Linked DNA regions of Homo sapiens: region 2 is linked to region 1. The links come from fine-mapping of genetic effects on plasma protein levels. Region 1 holds a variant in brackets. A gene starts in the other region. All regions are shown on their reverse strands.

Region 1 (8,112 bases):
TTGCTGGATCATATGGTAGTTCTATTTTTAGTTCTTTAAGGAATCTCCACACTGTTTACTGTTTTCCATAGTGGCTGTACTAGCTTATATTCCCACCACTTGTAGAAGTGTTCTCTGATCACCACATCCACACTGGCATCTACTGTTTTATAATTTTTTGATTATGGGCATTCTTCTGGGAGTAAGGTGGTATTGCATTGCATTTTTTATTTGCATTTCCTTGATCATTAGTGATGTTGAGCATTTTTTCATATGCTTATTGGCTATTGTAATTTTTTTTGAGAATTGTCTGTTCAGGTTCTTAGCCCACTTTTTGATGGGATTGTTTGTTTTTCTTATGAATTTTTTTAAGTTCATTGTAGATTTTGGATATTAGTCCTTTGTCAGAAGTATAGCTTGTGAAAACTTTTTCCCCCTCTGTGGGTTTCCTGTTTAGTCTGCTGACTGTTCGTTTTGTTGTGAGAAAGCTCTTTTATTTAATTAGGTCCCAGCTATTTATGGTTTTTGTTTGTTTTCTGTTGCATTTGCTTTTGGGTGTTTGGTCATGAAATTCTCACCTAAGCCAATGTCTAGAAGGGTTTTTGCAATGTTATCTTTTAGAATTTTTATAGTTTCAGGTCTTAGGTTTAAGTCCTTAATCCGTCTTGAGTTGAGTTTTATATAAGTTGAGAGATGATGATGCAATTTCATTCTCCTACATGTAACTAGCCAATTATCTCAGCATTATGTTGAAAAGGGTGTCCTTTCCCCACTTTATGTTTTTTGTTTGATTTCTCAGAGATCAGTTGGCTGTAAATATTTGGGTTAATTTCTGGGTTCTCTATTCTGTTCCATTGTTCTATGTGCCTATTTTTATACAAGTACCATGCTGTTTTTGTGACTATGGCTTTATAGTATAGTTTAAATTCAGGTAGTTTGATGCCTCCAGATTTGTTCCATTTTTGCTTAGTCTTCCTTTGGCTATGTGGACTCTTTTTTGGTTCCATACGAAGTTTGGTATTGTTTTTTTTTCTAATTATGTGAAGAATAATGGGTGGTATTTTTATGGGGATTACATTAAATTTGCAGATTGCTTTTGGTAGTATGGTCATTTTCACAATATTGATTCTACCCATCCATGAGCATGGGATGTGTTTCTATTTGTTTGTGTCATCTATGATTTCTTTCTGCAGTGTTTTGTAGTTTTCCTTGTAGAGTTCTTTTGATTCCTTGGTTAGGTATAATCTTAAGTTTTCTTTTCTTTTCTTTTTCTTTCCTTTTTTTTTTTTTTTGCTGCTATGGTGAAAGGGGTTGAGTTTTTGATTTGATTCTCCACTTGGTCACTGTTGGTGTATAGAAGAGCTACTGATTTGTGTACATGAACCTTGTATCTGAAAAGTTTGCTGAATTCTTTTATCAGTTCTAGGAGCTTTCTGAAGGAGTCTTTAGGATTTTCAAGGTAAACAATCATATTATCAATAAACAGTGACAATTTGACTTCTATTTACCAATTTGAATGCCCTTTATTTTTTTCTATTCTCAGATTACTCTGGCTAAGACTTCCAGTATTATGTTGAAGTTGAGTGGTGAGAATGGACATCCTTTTTTTGTTCCAGTTCTCAGAGGGAATGCTTTCTACATTTTCCCATTCAGTATTATCTTGGCTGTGGGTTTGTCAAAGATGACATTTACTACATTGAGATATGTCCCTTATATGCCAATTTTGCTGAGAGTCTTAATCATAAAGAGATGTTGAATTTTGTCAAATGCTTTTTCTTCATCTTATGAGATAATCATGTGAATTTTGTTTTTAATTCTGTTTATGTGGTGTATCACATTTATTGACTTGCATGTGTTAAACCATCCCTGCATGCCTGGTATGAAGCCCACTTGATCATGGATTATCTTTTTGATATGTTGTCGGATTCGGTTAGCTAGTATTTTGTTAAGGATTTTAGTATCTATGTTCATCAAGGATATCTGTCTGTAGTTTTCTTTTTTGGTTATGTCCTTTCCTGGTTTTGGTGTTAGGGTGATGCTGGCTTCATAGAATGAATTAGGGATAGTTCCTTGTTTCTCTATCTTGTGTAATAGTGTCAAAAAGTTTGGTACCAGTTCTTTGAATGTCCGGTAGAATTCAGCTATGAATTCATCTGGTCTTCAACTTCTTTTTCTGTTGATAATTTTGTAATTACCGTTTTAATCTCACTGCTTGTTATTGGTCTGTTCAGGATATCTAATTCTTCCTGATTTAAGCTAGGAGGGTTGTATTTTTCCATGAATTTATCTATCTCTTCTAGATTTTCTAGTTTATATGCATAAAGGTGTTCATAGTAGCCTTGAATGATCTTTTGTATTTCAGTGGCGTCAGTTGTAATATCTCCTTTTTTGTTTCTCAGTGAGGTTATTTGGATTTTCTCTCTTCTTTTCTTGGTTAATCTTGCTAAGGGTCTATAAATTTTATTTACCTTTTCAAAGAACCAGCTTTTTATCACATTTATCTTTTGTATTTTTTGTTTGTTTCTTTGTTTCAATTTTATTTATTTCTGCTCTGATCTTGGGTATTTCCTTTCTTCTCCTGGGTTTGGGTTTGGCTTGTTCTTGTTTCTCTAGATACTTGAGGTGTGACCTTAGAATATCAGTTTGTGATCATTCAGACTTTCTGATGTAGATGTTTAGGGCTGTGAACTTTCCTCTTAGAACTGCCTTTGCTGTATCCCAGAGGTTTTGGTAGATTGTGTCATTATTGTCATTCAGTTCAAAGAAATGTTTAATTTCCATCTTGATTTCGTTTTTCACCCAAAGCTCATTCAGGAGCAGGTTATTTAATTTCCATGTATTTGCATGGTTTTTAAGGTTCTTTTTCTAGTTGACTTCCAGCTTTATACCATGGTGGTCTGAGAGAGTGCTTGATACAATTTAAATTCTCTTAAATTTATTGAGGCTCATTTTATGACCTGTCATATGGTCCACCTTGGAGAAAGTTCCATGTGATATTTAATAGAATGTGCATTCTGCAGTTTTTGGATGAAAAGTTCTGTATACACCTTTTAAGTTCATTTGTTCCAGGGTATACTTTACACCTGTTGTTTCTTTGTTGACTTTCTGTCACAATGATCTGTCTAGTGATGTCAGAGGAGCATTGAATTCCTCCACTATTATTGTGTTGCTGTCTATCTCATTCCTTAGGTCTATTAGTAATTGTTTTATAAATTTGGGAGCTCCAGTGTTAGGTGCATATACGTTTAGGATTGTGATATTTTCCTGTTCAACAAGGCTTTTTACCATTATGTAATGTCCTTCCTTGTCTCTTTTAGTTGCTGTTGCTCCAAAGTTTGTTTTTTCTGATATAAGCGCAGCAAACCCTGCTCACTTTTGGTGTCCATTTGCATGAAATGTCTTTTTCCATCCCTTTACTTTAAGTTTATGTGAGTCCTTATGTGTTAGGTGAGTCTCCTGAAGGCAAGAGATAGTTGGTTGGTTTCACCCAGCTATTAAGCCTAGTAACCATTAGTTGTTTTTCTTGATTCTCTCTGTCCTCCCACCCTCCACCCTCTGAAAAGCCTGTGTCTGTTGTTCCCCTCTATGTGTCCATGTGTTCTCATAATTTAGCTTGCACTTGTAAGTGAGAACATGCAGTAATTGGTTTTCTGTTCCTGTTTTTGTTTGCCAAGGATAAAGGCTTCCAGCTCCATCCA[T/C]GTCCCTACAAAGGACATAATCTCATTCTTTGTTATGGTTCCATAGTATTCCATGGTAAATATCTACCAATTTTTATCCATTCTATAATTGATGGGCAATTAGGTTGATTCCATGTCTTTGCTATTGTGCATGGTGCTGCAATGAACATACATATGCTTGTGTCTTTGCAATAGAATAATTTATATTCCTTTGGTTATATACCTAGTAATGGGATTTCTGGGTCAAATAATATTTCTGTGTTTGAGTCTTTGAGAAATATCCTCCCTGTCTTCCACAATGGTGGAAATAATTTACGCTCACACCAACAGTGTATAAGCATTCCTTTTTCTCCTCAACTTTGCCAGCATCTGTCATTTTTTTATTTAATAGTAGCCATTCTTACTGGTATGAGATGGTATCTCATTGTGGTTTTGATTTACACTTCTCTAATGATCAGTGGTGTTGAGCTTTTTAACATATAATTCTTGGCCATTTGTATGTCTTCTTTTGAAAAGTGTCTTTATGTCTTTTGCCCACTTTTAATTGGGTTAGTTTTTTTTCTTGTAAATTTGTTAAAGTTCCTTTTGGATGCTGTATATTAGACCTTTGTTAGATGCATAGCTTGCAAAAATTTTCTTTCATTCTGTAGGTTATCTGCTTACTCTGTTGATAGTTTCCTTTTCTGTGCAGAAGCTCTTTAGTTTAATTAGACTCCATTTGTCAATTTTTGCTTTTGTTGCCATTGCTTTTTGTGTCTTTGTCATAAAATGTTTGCCCATGCATATGTCATGAATAATATTCCCTAGTTGTCTGCAGAGTTTTTATAGTTTTGGGTTTTACATTTAAGTGTGTAATCCACACTGAGCTAATTTTTGTATATGGTGTAAGGAAGGGGTCCAGTTTCAATCTTCTGCTTATGGTTAGCTAGTTATCCCAGCATCACTTATTGAATAGGAATTCCATTCCCCATCGCTTGTTTTTGTCAGATTTGTTGAAGTCCAGATACTTGTAGATATGCAGTCTTATTTCTGGGTTCCCTATTCTGTTTCATTGGTCTATGTGTCTATTTTTTACCAGCACGATGCTGCTTTGTTTACTGTAGCCCAGTAGTATAGTTTGAAGTCAGGTAGCGTGATGCCTCCAGATTTGTTATTTTTGGCTATTTGAGCTCTTTTTTGGTTCCATATACATTTTTAAATCTTTTTTCTAGTTCTGTGATGAATTTCAATGGTAGTTTAATTGGGAATAGCACCAAATCTATATATTGATTTGACAAGTAAGGTAATTTTAATATTGATTCTTCCTATCCATTGACATGCAATGTCTTTCCATTTGTTTGTGTCATCTCTGATTTCTTTGAATAGTGATTTGTAGTTGTCCTTGTAGAGATCTTTCACCTCTCTAGTTCCCTGTATTCCCAGGTAGTTTATTCCTATTGTAGCAATTGTTAATAGGAGTTTATTCCTGATTTGGCCCTTGGCTTGACTATTGTTGTTGTATAGGAATGCTAGAAATTTTCCACATTGATTTTCTATTGTAAGACTTTTCTGAAGTTTTTTATCAGCTTAAGAAGCTTTTTGGCTGAGTTTATGAAATTTACTTGATATAGGATCATGTCATCTGCAAACAGGGATAGTTTAACTTCCTTTCTTTCTATTTGAATGTCTTTGCTTCTTTCTCTCGCCTGATTGCCCTGGCCAGAAATTCCAATAGGATTTTGAATAGAAGTGGTTAGAGAGGACATCCTTGTCTTGTGCCACTTTTTAAGGGGAATGCTTCTAGTTTTTCCCATTCATTATAACATTGATTGTGGGTCTGTAATAGATGGCTCTTATTATTTTGAGGCATGTTTCTTCAATACCTAGTTTATTGGGAGTTTTTAACATGAATGGATGTTGAAAATTTTCAAAAACCTTTTATATATCTATTGAGATAATCATGTGGTTTTTGTCTTTAGTTCGGTTTATGTGATGAATCACATTGATTGATTTGCATAAGGTTAACCAACCTTGCATCCCAGGAATAAAGCCTACTTGATCATGGTGGATAAGCTTTTTGATGTGCTGCTGGATTTGTTTTGCCAGTATTTTGTTGAGGAGTTTTGCATTGATGCTCATCAAGGATATTGGCCTGAAGTTTTCTATTTTTGTTGTACTGCTGCCAGGTTTTGGTGTCACGGTGATGCTGGCCTCATGGAATGAGCTTGGAAGAAATCCTTTCTCCTCAGTTTTTTTGGAATAGTTTAAATAGAAATGGTACCAGCTCTTCTTTGTACATCTGGAATAATTCATCTATAAATCCCTATGGTTCTGGGCATTTTCTTGGTTCATAGGCTATTTATTACCACCTCTATTTAAGAACTAATTATTTGTGTGTTCAGGAATTCCATTTCTTCCTGATTCATTCTTGGGAGGGTGTATGTGTCCAGGAATTTATCCATTTCTTCTATATTTTCTAGTTTACATGCATAGAGGTGTTCTTAATATTTTCTGATGGTTGTTTGTATTTCTGTGGGGTCAGTTGTAACATCTGCCTTAGCATTTCTGATTGCATTTACTTGAATCTTTTCTCTTTTCATTTTCATTGGTCTAGCTAATGATGTATTTTATTAATTTATTCACAGAATAGCTCCTGAATTTATTGATCTTTTGGTTGTTTCTTCACATCTCTGTCTCCTTCAGTTCAGCTCTGATTTTGGTTATTTCTTTGTCTTCTGCTGGCTTTGAGATTTGATTTCTTGATTCTTTAGTTCTTTTAGTTGTGATGATAGGTTGTTAACTTGAGATATTTCTAACTTTTTGATGTGGGTATTTAATGCTATAAATTTTCCTCTTAATACTGCATTACCTGTGTCCCAGAGATTCTAGTATATTGTATCTTTGCTCTCATTAGTTTCAAATAACTTCTTCATTTCTGCTTTAATTTCATTATTTACCCAAATGTCATACATGAGCAGATTATGCAATTTCCATATAATTGTATGATTTTGAGGGAATTTCTTAGTCTTGATTTCTAATTTGATTGTGCTGATATCCAAAATAGTGTTTGTTATAATTTTAGTTATTTTGCATTTGATAGGGAGTGTTTTACTCCTGATTATGTGATCAATTTTAGTGTACATGTCATATGGTGATAAGAAGTGTGTATATTCTGTTGGTTTAGGGTGGAGAGTTCTGTAGATATCTATCAGGTCCACCTGACTCAGTACTGAGTTTATGTCCTGAATGTTTCATTAATTTTCTGTCTCAGTGACATATTTAATATTGTCAGTGGGGTGTTAAAGTCTCCCAATATTATTGGGTGGGAGTCTAAGTCTCTCTGAAGGTCTCCAAAAACTTGCTTTGTGAATCTGGGTGCTCATTTGTTGGGTGTGTATATATTTAGGATAGTAAGATTGTCTCGTTTAATTGAGGGCTTTACCATTATGTAATGCACTTCTTTGTCTTTTTTAAAACGTTGTTGGTTTAAAGTCTGTTTTGTCAGCAATTGAGATTGCAACTTCTGTTTTTTGCTCTTTCCCGTTTGCTTGGTAGATTTTTCTCTTTACCTTTATTTTAAGCCTATGTGTGTCATTGCAAGTGAAATGGTTCTCTTGAAGACAGCATACCATTTGTTTTTTATTCTTTATCCACCTTGCCACCCTGTGTCTTTTAATTGGTGCATTTAGCCCATTTATGTTTGAGGTTATTATTGATATGTGTGGATTTGATCATGTCATCATGATGTTAGCTGGTTATTTTGCAGACTTGCTTATGTCATTGCTTTATAGAGTCACCGGTCTGTACTTCAGTGTGTTTTTGTAGTGGCTGATAATGTTCTTTCCATATTTAGTGCTTCCTTCTGAAGCTCTTGTAAGGCAGTTCTAGTGGTACCAAATTTCTGCATTTTTTTTTTTTTTTTTTTGTCTGAAAAGGATCTTATTTCTCCTTTACGTATGAAGCTTAGTTTGACTGGATATGATTTTCTGGGTTGGAATTTCTTAAGTATGTTGAATATTGGCCCCCAATCTCTTCTGGCTTGTAGGGTTTCTGCTGAGAAGTCCACTGTTAGTCTAATGGGCTTCTGTTTGTAGGTGACCCATCCTCTCTCTCTGGCTGCCTTTAACATTTTTTCTTTCATTTTGACCTTGGAGAATCTCATGATTATGTGTTTTGGAGATGATCCTCTTGTGAATTATCTTACTGATTTTCTCTAAATTTCCTGAATGTGAATCTTGGCACCTCTCGCTAGGTTGGGAAGTTTCTTATGGATGATATCCTGAAATATGTTTTTCAATTTGGTTCCATTCTCCCTACCTCTTTGAGGTACACCAATCACTTTTAGATTTGGTCTCTTTACATAATCTTGCATTTCTCAAAGAGCTTGTTTATTGCTTTTTATTCTTTTTCTCTATTCTTATCCACCTGTCTTATTTCAGAAATCCAGTTTTTGAGCTCTGAAATTGTTTTCTCCACT
Region 2 (8,112 bases), not on the chromosome of region 1:
AAGTTCTCATTTTTCACTTGAGGAATCTGAGGCTTGAAGAGAGAGATGGGTGTGTAATGAGGGAGGAATCACTTTCTCTCTGTGCTGGCCAACACAGAGGGGATGGCTGTAGGGGCAAAGTCCTTGGTCTGGAGATGTTAATCATTCAAAGTCACAAAAATGGGACCAGAAATAGAGAAGGATGGTTTGGGATCCAGCACATTATAAATATTCCTTCCTCAACATCTTCTGGAGATGACAGGGATTCCTGAAACCCCCTCACCTCCAAAAGCCTCCCCCTATCTCATCCATTCCTATCCTTCATCCTATTCAAATAGATCCTAGCCCCAAACAATCAGACAGCAGAGCCTGTTCATCCCTGAATATGCATGAAGCACGCTACTTCCAGGTGCCCAGCCAGCATAAGAAGGTACACGGGGGCTCCAAAGGGCAGGCCTGAATTCTAATCTAATCCAGCTGTATGCCCAAACTGTTTGATTAACTGTCTCAGATGGGGTGAGAGAAGCCAGCCTGGGCCAAGAAGCAATGACCCCTCATCCTGACATTCCAAGTTTGGGTAACTCTGGGCTCATGGTCAGACCTACCCTTAATGGAGGTGCCCTTCTTTACCCCTCTCCCCAACGCAGCAGAGTTCAAGGGCTGTGCAGGATTCACTTCTGGTCAGAGGGGAATGAGAAGGCAGCTGAATCCTCTCCCCCAGGGGGCACAGCTTCCCTCTGACCTCTGAGCCTGAGTTGCTTTTTTGGGTTGAGGTTTCCAAAACTCTGGGTGGCCTTGCAGATCTAGCATCTCTTTGATAAGCATGGCCATCTCCCAGAAAGGAACACTTCATCTCTGAGGATGGCTAGCTCATGATAAACCAACATTTTATTCAAGTTCCCACTTAAAAAGAAAAAGGAAAGAAAGCAAGAAAAAAATTTGGTCATAATAACCGCTGTCATTGAGTAAGTACCTACTATGTGCCAGGCATCATATTCCGCTTTATACACATGATCTGACTGAATCATCACAAAAGCCCTATAATAATAACTACTATTATTGTCCCCACTTTTCAGGTGAGCAAACTGTAGGTAAGAGAAATTGAATAACATGTTCAAAGTTAGAAAGAAAAAAAAACCAACAAAATTTGAACCCCCAAGTATCTGACTCCCAAGACTGTATCCATTTCATTAGCTGCCCTGCTGTGCTTACCTAAGCATCCTTCCAGTCTAGTGAGCCAGAGTTTCTTATTATCCCTCAGAACAGATGAAGGACTGAAACTCAGTAAAACTGATAATGTTACCCTCCACAGAAGCATAGAGATGGCGGCTGTCGTCTCATCCATTTGAGTGTTGAGCTTAGGAGAGCACAAGCCCAAGTGAACGAGGGGGTTTCAAATTGAGGCTGAGACACTCACTAGCTGGGTGACCTTGGGATGTTACCTTTTAAAGCTTCAATCCTTTAAAATGCAGATGATGATAACAGTGTCTAGTTTGGGGGATGTTGTGAGGATCAAGCAAGATAATGCATGTGCAGTGTTGATTACAGGGGAATTGTCACCACTAGCACCGCTTTCTTCCAGGTCCTCCCCACTGGGGAGCAAGTGCTCTCTCCAAATCAAGAACTCTGGCCTAGCAGTGAGTCAGCAGCACTCAGAGTCCCATGGAGCCTGCCTTTCCAGAGGCCCAGGAAACTCGCATGGGCTGGGAAGCAGGATGCCAGGGTTTCTGCTCTGCACTTGCCCCCTTCTGACTCACTGGTGGCCCAGGGCTAATCAGTCTCCAAGCCTCAGTTTGCTCATGGTCAATAGACAGTCAATAAAAGCAGGCTTGTCTGTCTGAACTCTACTTCCTTAGGACTATGTTCCTGGCATTTGACAACCTGACATCCAGAGAGCAGGTGGGGGAGACCTGAGCAGGAGGAGGGGACAATATGGAGGAATCCTGCATGACAGTGCTGTCTCATTGACATCTCATATGATTCTGACAATAATGGGGCATAAAATCCAGTGTCTACCTTGGCTTATAACGTCCTCTTTTATCTGTTGCTAGCCTTTGTTCCAATATCATCCCATATCTCTCCTTTTTTGGCCCTCTTGCTTTTCCTTGAATGCTCCCAACTTTTTTCCATTTCAGAGTCTTTGCACTATTTGCACATCTTGGAATGCTTTTGTCATAGATGATCCCAAATCTGATTTCTTCTTCTCATTCAGGCCTCAGCTTACATGTCACCTGCTCAGAGAAGGCTTTGCTAATCAGTTTAAAGTGTCATCCTGGGCACTGGAACATATTATCCTACAGCACATCATTGTATTTTAACTTTCATCTTAGCAGTTATCACTATAGGATATGTTTTTCCTTGTTTATTTCCTTAATGTGCTGCCTGTCTACTATAGAATATAAGCTCTGTGAAAGCAGGTCCTGGGCTGTCTTATTTATTTCTATGTCCCCAGTGCCCCCCAAAAATGTTCAGTTAATGTTTATGATATAATTGAGTTAATGAGATTGCCTCAGCATGAATTGTGATTCCTTTTCTTTGCTCAGAGACATCCAAGATTCTGAGAGGGGAAGTGACTGTCCCAAATCCAATTCAAGCTTTTTATCTTCTTTTTTCAGGCCCTTCCTGTAAAACCTGGCTGACACACAAACCTAGCTGGGGTGAGGCTCCAGGTGTGATGAAAGTTTGGAGTTGCCCCATGAATGGGACTGAGGCTGATGTGGGGGTGAGAAGGCGGAAGGACAGAGCATGTGAAGGGAGAAAGGCAGGCTGGGGCAAGAGAGCAGGGTGTGACTCTGGCGAGGGTGGGGGAAAGGGGGTGATTTGACCATGTGTCAGGAAGTGTTTCTCTCCACCCTCCCCTGGGGAGAGCCTTGACCCCAAGGTGGCTTTGTTTTGGGGAAGCAGGTGGCCAGGCAGCTGCTGAGGGAGGGCAAAGTCATGGCTTGGGCGGTGACCATGCACTGAGGTCCTAGGCCCGATACTCATCACCCAAAAGGATAATCTAACAGTGGCTCTTAGCCAAATAGGTGACAGGTGAGCTTCTGTCTGAAACCAGCCCAACTATATCATAAAGCCTCAGATATGGCCTAGGGGAAGGCAAGCGATCTAGAGAAGTGAGAGAAAAGAGGCCTCTAAGGAAATAGAGTGGTCAAGTGCTTAGTGATTATTATTAACAGCAACAATAATAATGGGTCACATTTATTGAGAGCTTATAGTGTGCCTGGCACTATACTAACTACTTTTATGTGTTCCCGCATTCATTTCTCAAAAAGCTCCCTACAAAGTAGTCATTATTATTATTGTTATTATTTTTTCCATTTGAGAGACGTCAAAACTGAGGCTCAGTGAAATTAAGTTTCTTGTCCAAGGTCACACAGTAAGTAGCAAAGGCAGGATTCAAACTCAGGTCTGTAGTGATTCCAGTGCACTATGGAAACCTAGGCCTAGGTTACTGGAGCAAGTTAAGAGGGCAGGGCCAGACTGACCCCTGCAAAGGTGGGGATAGGGAGGGACAGTGGGATAGACTGTGTATAAATAGCAGGCCTGTTTTTATCCCTACACACAGGCAGAATCCGGCAAGTGCTCTATCTGGCACAATTTCAGGGCTCTGAAAGCCAACCCAGCCCTGTGTCAAACAACTCTCTCCCCAGCACGTCCCTGGAAACTGAAATACCTACTGAGACACTCATTTCTTTGGGTCAGGACAGTGACTCCAGAAGACCCCTGCAAAAGCACATGGGTTGGAAGAGAAACACCTAGTGTCTGTGAAACAGCAATCTAGGTTAGCCAGCTGGGTCCTATGGGAGGGTGGCTCATTTTTTATGTTGAGGAAAAAGGTGGCAGTCAAAGGCAAGGAAAAGAATAAGGCTTGTTTCACAACCTGTGTCTCTCCAATCTCAGAAGCCTGGGAATTACAACCCATAGTTCAAAAATCCTAATGTCCCCTGAGGGAAGATGGGAGGAAGCCACTCCAGAGACTAAGAGAGTACTAACTTCCTTTGCTTTTGCTGGATTGATACTAAGTGCCTGCAACTTCAACTCTGGTTATCTCGGGTTTATGAGAACGGCTGGCATTCACGTGTCTAATTTTTAAATGATAGATGAATTAATTATTATTTGATACTTGCCGTGTTGGTAGGCCAAAAGGTGGGCTTCTGAAACTTAGAGGGTGACAGGGATGGAGACCCCTGGTATGGGGCTTAGATGAAGCAAGAGGCCAGGCCCGGAACAGAACTCAGCTCAGCAGTCAGTCACAAGGCTGCAGAGTGACAGGCGTTTGGGGAAAGGTAGGAACCGCTCTCCGCCACCTGCCGGTCAGTAGCCCTACCCACAATCAGGCCGCGGCTGCCTCGGCCTGGTCCCAAAAATTGTGAACGCCGCCCTCTCCTCCCGCCCAGTCCTCCGCCGCGCCCGCGGGGTCGGGGGCTGCGCTGCCGGCGCCGCGAGCCGGGCGAGCTTCCCAGCACGGGAGGAGGGAGGGGGCGGCGCCGGGCGGGGCGGAGCTTCCGCGCCTCCTGGAGCCTTATTCCCGGCCGCGAGCCGGGCAGCGCTCATTCGGCCGAAGGAGCTACGCGGGCCACGCTGCTGGCTGGCCTGACCTAGGCGCGCGGGGTCGGGCGGCCGCGCGGGCGGGCTGAGTGAGCAAGACAAGACACTCAAGAAGAGCGAGCTGCGCCTGGGTCCCGGCCAGGCTTGCACGCAGAGGCGGGCGGCAGACGGTGCCCGGCGGAATCTCCTGAGCTCCGCCGCCCAGCTCTGGTGCCAGCGCCCAGTGGCCGCCGCTTCGAAAGTGACTGGTGCCTCGCCGCCTCCTCTCGGTGCGGGACCATGAAGCTGCTGCCGTCGGTGGTGCTGAAGCTCTTTCTGGCTGCAGGTAAGAGGGCTGCCGACGCCCCCGGAGATCGGGGGGATGGGGGCGTTGTGCTGGGGGCATGGGGGAAGGTCGCCGCAGCGCACCCGGCACGGGCCACTTGGTGGGGCCCTTGCGCTCTGGCGGACGGGCGTCGGCATCGGTGCGTGTTGGTCAGGGGTCTGGGCGGGTGTCTGATGCGGCCTGGCCTCTCGCCCGCAGTTCTCTCGGCACTGGTGACTGGCGAGAGCCTGGAGCGGCTTCGGAGAGGGCTAGCTGCTGGAACCAGCAACCCGGACCCTCCCACTGTATCCACGGACCAGCTGCTACCCCTAGGAGGCGGCCGGGACCGGAAAGTCCGTGACTTGCAAGAGGCAGATCTGGACCTTTTGAGAGGTGGGTGTGGAGGCCCCCCATCCTTGGACCTTGGTGGGCTGTTGAAGAATAAGCAGATCCAAGATTCTTGCTGTTTGGGCAATACTGTGGGTTGAGGGTATTCATGGAGAACCTCGGGGAAAAGCTGATCGGCCTGATGGGCACTGGGGGATCCTGGAATATAGGTCCCACTCTCTCTCTCTTGTCATTGCCTCACCTGCTGGGTTGCTGCCCTTCTGGGTACTCCGGGGCAAATTGAATCAGACGTGTTGTCTGGGGTTGTTACGTTCTTCTTAGGTAAGCTGGGTGATAGGAACAAGGAATGGTTGAGATGCTTTCCCTAGAGCTACTATGTAAAAATGGGCGCCAGTTCTAATTCCCATATCAAATGACTATTATATATAAAATAGAGGTAACACATGCGGAGATGCCCAGGCACATCTCTAGAAAGTGTGCAGTGTTGGCCTCCTCCATCCACCTGTCTCCAGATTGGGGAAACAGAGGGGAATGAGGAGCTCTTGGCCGCCCTAGATGAGGCTGTGAATGGTGAGCACTGAGCCCCTAGGGGGCTGTATTAAAATGCTGGATATCTGTGAATGCTACCGGAAACCTGCAGCTTACTGAGCACCTTGCATTCCTGAGGAGACTCCAAATGGGGAGGGCTGTGTAGGATCCTCCAACCAGCCTCTTTGGCTGTGGCCAAGTACAGGTACAGGGCAGAGTCCAGAGCCTGCCAGCTCTCCTGCCTCCAAACCTGAGGAGATTATCCAGAGTAGAGCAAGGACTCAGCACTGTACCCTGGAATGACTATATTTGGTTGGACAGATGCCCACCTGTTCTAGTTCCACCTGCTCCTCAGCTGCCCTTCTCCCTCATTCCCAGGAGCTTTCCTTGGATACTCTCTCTACTTTGTATAAATCAAGCACATACTCCAAAACTGAGCCTGGGCTCCCATACTTCATCCTCTCCCAGTGGCCCTCTGGGGTTGCCCATGACCTGAACAGCCTGGATTCTCCTGGCCCTCTCCTCCTAGGCTGGGCAGGGCTGGGCTGTGACTCACCCCACCCCCACCCCCCACCCACACGGCTGCTCCTCTTACCTCTGCAGACCTGACTCACTGCTCCCTGTCCATGGCAGGAGCCTGGCTGTCACCCTGCACCTTCTCCCTCCCCTTTCTGATTGGCTTGGCCCCCCTGCCTTGCTCTCCCCGAAGCTCTGGTCACTGGGTTCCTCTGACCACCTGTATCACCTTCTGAGCTCTGAGGGGGCCTGGGACTGGATGAGAGGAAATGAAAGACTGTGGGGGCTGCTGGCACCTACTTCTCTTCCCTTCTTTTGGCTTTGCTGGGCAAGGACTATTTTTCAGGTCTGGGGATCCTACCACCTAAAATAAATGACTGCTACCATTTATTAAATTCCTACTGTGTTCTAGGCACTTGATATGTTATCCTGGCTAATGTAACACTTATAGCAACCTTTTGAGATAGTTACTTTGGCTATCCACATTTTACTGAGAACCTGAGGTTCAGAGGAGTTAAGTGACTGCCCACAGTAAATAGCTGAAATTGGAGCACAGGTCTATGGACTTCAGAGCCCATTCATGCCTGGATCAGCATCTCAGGTGCTCTAGACTTGTGAGAGGGAGGAGATGGGAGTGTGTGAGGCAGCTTGGTGTGGTGAGGAAGGACATTGGAGTGAAGTCCAGAGAACACAGTTCTAATCCCAATCCTGCATGACCTTGAGTAAGTCACTCTGCCTGCCATGAGTTTTTTCTTTTTTTCTTTTTTTTTTTTTTAAACATAGTCTCACTCTGTCACCCAGGCTGGAGTGCAATGGCACGATCTCAGCTCACTGCAATCTCTGCCTCCCAGGTTCAAGTGATTCTCCTGCCTCAGCCTCCTGAGTAGCTGCGATAACAGGCACACACCACCACGCCCGGCTAATTTTTGTATTTTTTGTAGAGATGAGATTTTTGCCATGTTGGCAAGGCTGGTCTCGAACTCCCGACCTCAGGTGATCCACCTGCCTCAGCCTCCCAAAGTGTTGGGATTACAGGCGTGAGCCACCGTGCCTGGCCACATGGTATTCTTTGAAGTCCCTCTAGCTTGAGACTCTAAGTCTCTAGTCTAACGTATCATGCTTACCCTTCTGTAAGACACATGGCTGTAGCCATGGATGTGGGCACCTTTTTCCTGATGGGGGATAAAAGGGTGGGATTGGGCTGATAGGCATAGTCCCTGGTCAATCCCAGCTGGATATCTGGGTGAGGCTGTTTTTCCCCCAGTCTCTCTGAAGCATGGAAAGAAGGAGGGAGTCATCATTGTTCCAGTTCCTTCTGGACAGTTCCTTACTTTCCATTTTTCTATCCCTTGTACACCCTGTACCCCCCAATCCAGAGAGCTATAAACAGGACATTGGGGGTTAAATATGAATGAATCTTTGAGAAAGTGGGTGAGCTGTAAAGGGTATGCAAGTTAAATATTTTGCTTGAAGTTGAAAAAGCAAGGCCGTGACCAGGGCTGGCCTGCTTGCTGTTCCTGAGCCAGGCTCTGCCCTGGGCTCATAGTACTAAGGGGTGCCCCAGAAGAGACCACCTGAACACATGGACACTGTTCTTATATTAGGAGCCCTCCAACCCCAGAACCTCCAAGTACCTTCTCTAGAAGCAATTTTTGTGTGTGACACTGTCTTTCTGCAAGTGGTTCACTGAGTACAGCATCAGGAAATGAGGCTGATTGAAGGCCAAAATAGAATGAAGTGGGTGTGGGGGAGTAGGAGATGGGGGTGTAAGGTGGACAGTGGGGTGGAGGTGAGGTTGGTAGAATTGCCCAGTTACTCAACAAAAGCATTCTGAGAATGAGGCTCTTACACAGAGACTGTGAAATGCCTTCCTTGGGACCCACCCTAGC

Direction of the effects. Alleles are on the strand shown, and positions count from the first base shown. The strength of an association depends on the size of the effect and on how common the allele is.
As copies of T replace C in region 1, the plasma level of the protein whose gene starts at base 4,532 in region 2 goes down (weak association).

Evidence for each region. PIP is the chance, under the fine-mapping model, that this variant and not a neighbour inherited with it causes the effect. Protein levels are from antibody-based Olink assays in UK Biobank. Linkage for the fine-mapping came from a reference panel and not from the study's own genotypes, which makes the PIPs less certain.
Region 2: it holds the start of HBEGF, and the variant in region 1 is fine-mapped to the plasma level of the HBEGF protein (UK Biobank, PIP above 0.99).

Annotation. Positions count from the first base shown.
Region 1 is chrX:67,069,364-67,077,475 of GRCh38, reverse strand. No RefSeq gene overlaps it. Among named protein-coding and RNA genes, the nearest start is that of EDA2R, 430 kb to the right of the region's middle. The variant T/C (reference allele first, on the strand shown) is at 3,678.
Region 2 is chr5:140,343,023-140,351,134 of GRCh38, reverse strand. HBEGF (heparin binding EGF like growth factor) reads left to right here and starts at 4,532. Exons shown (of 6, transcript NM_001945.3): 1 at 4,532-4,852; 2 at 5,051-5,224. The coding sequence starts at 4,807. RefSeq lists silencers at 4,248-4,297, 4,338-4,617.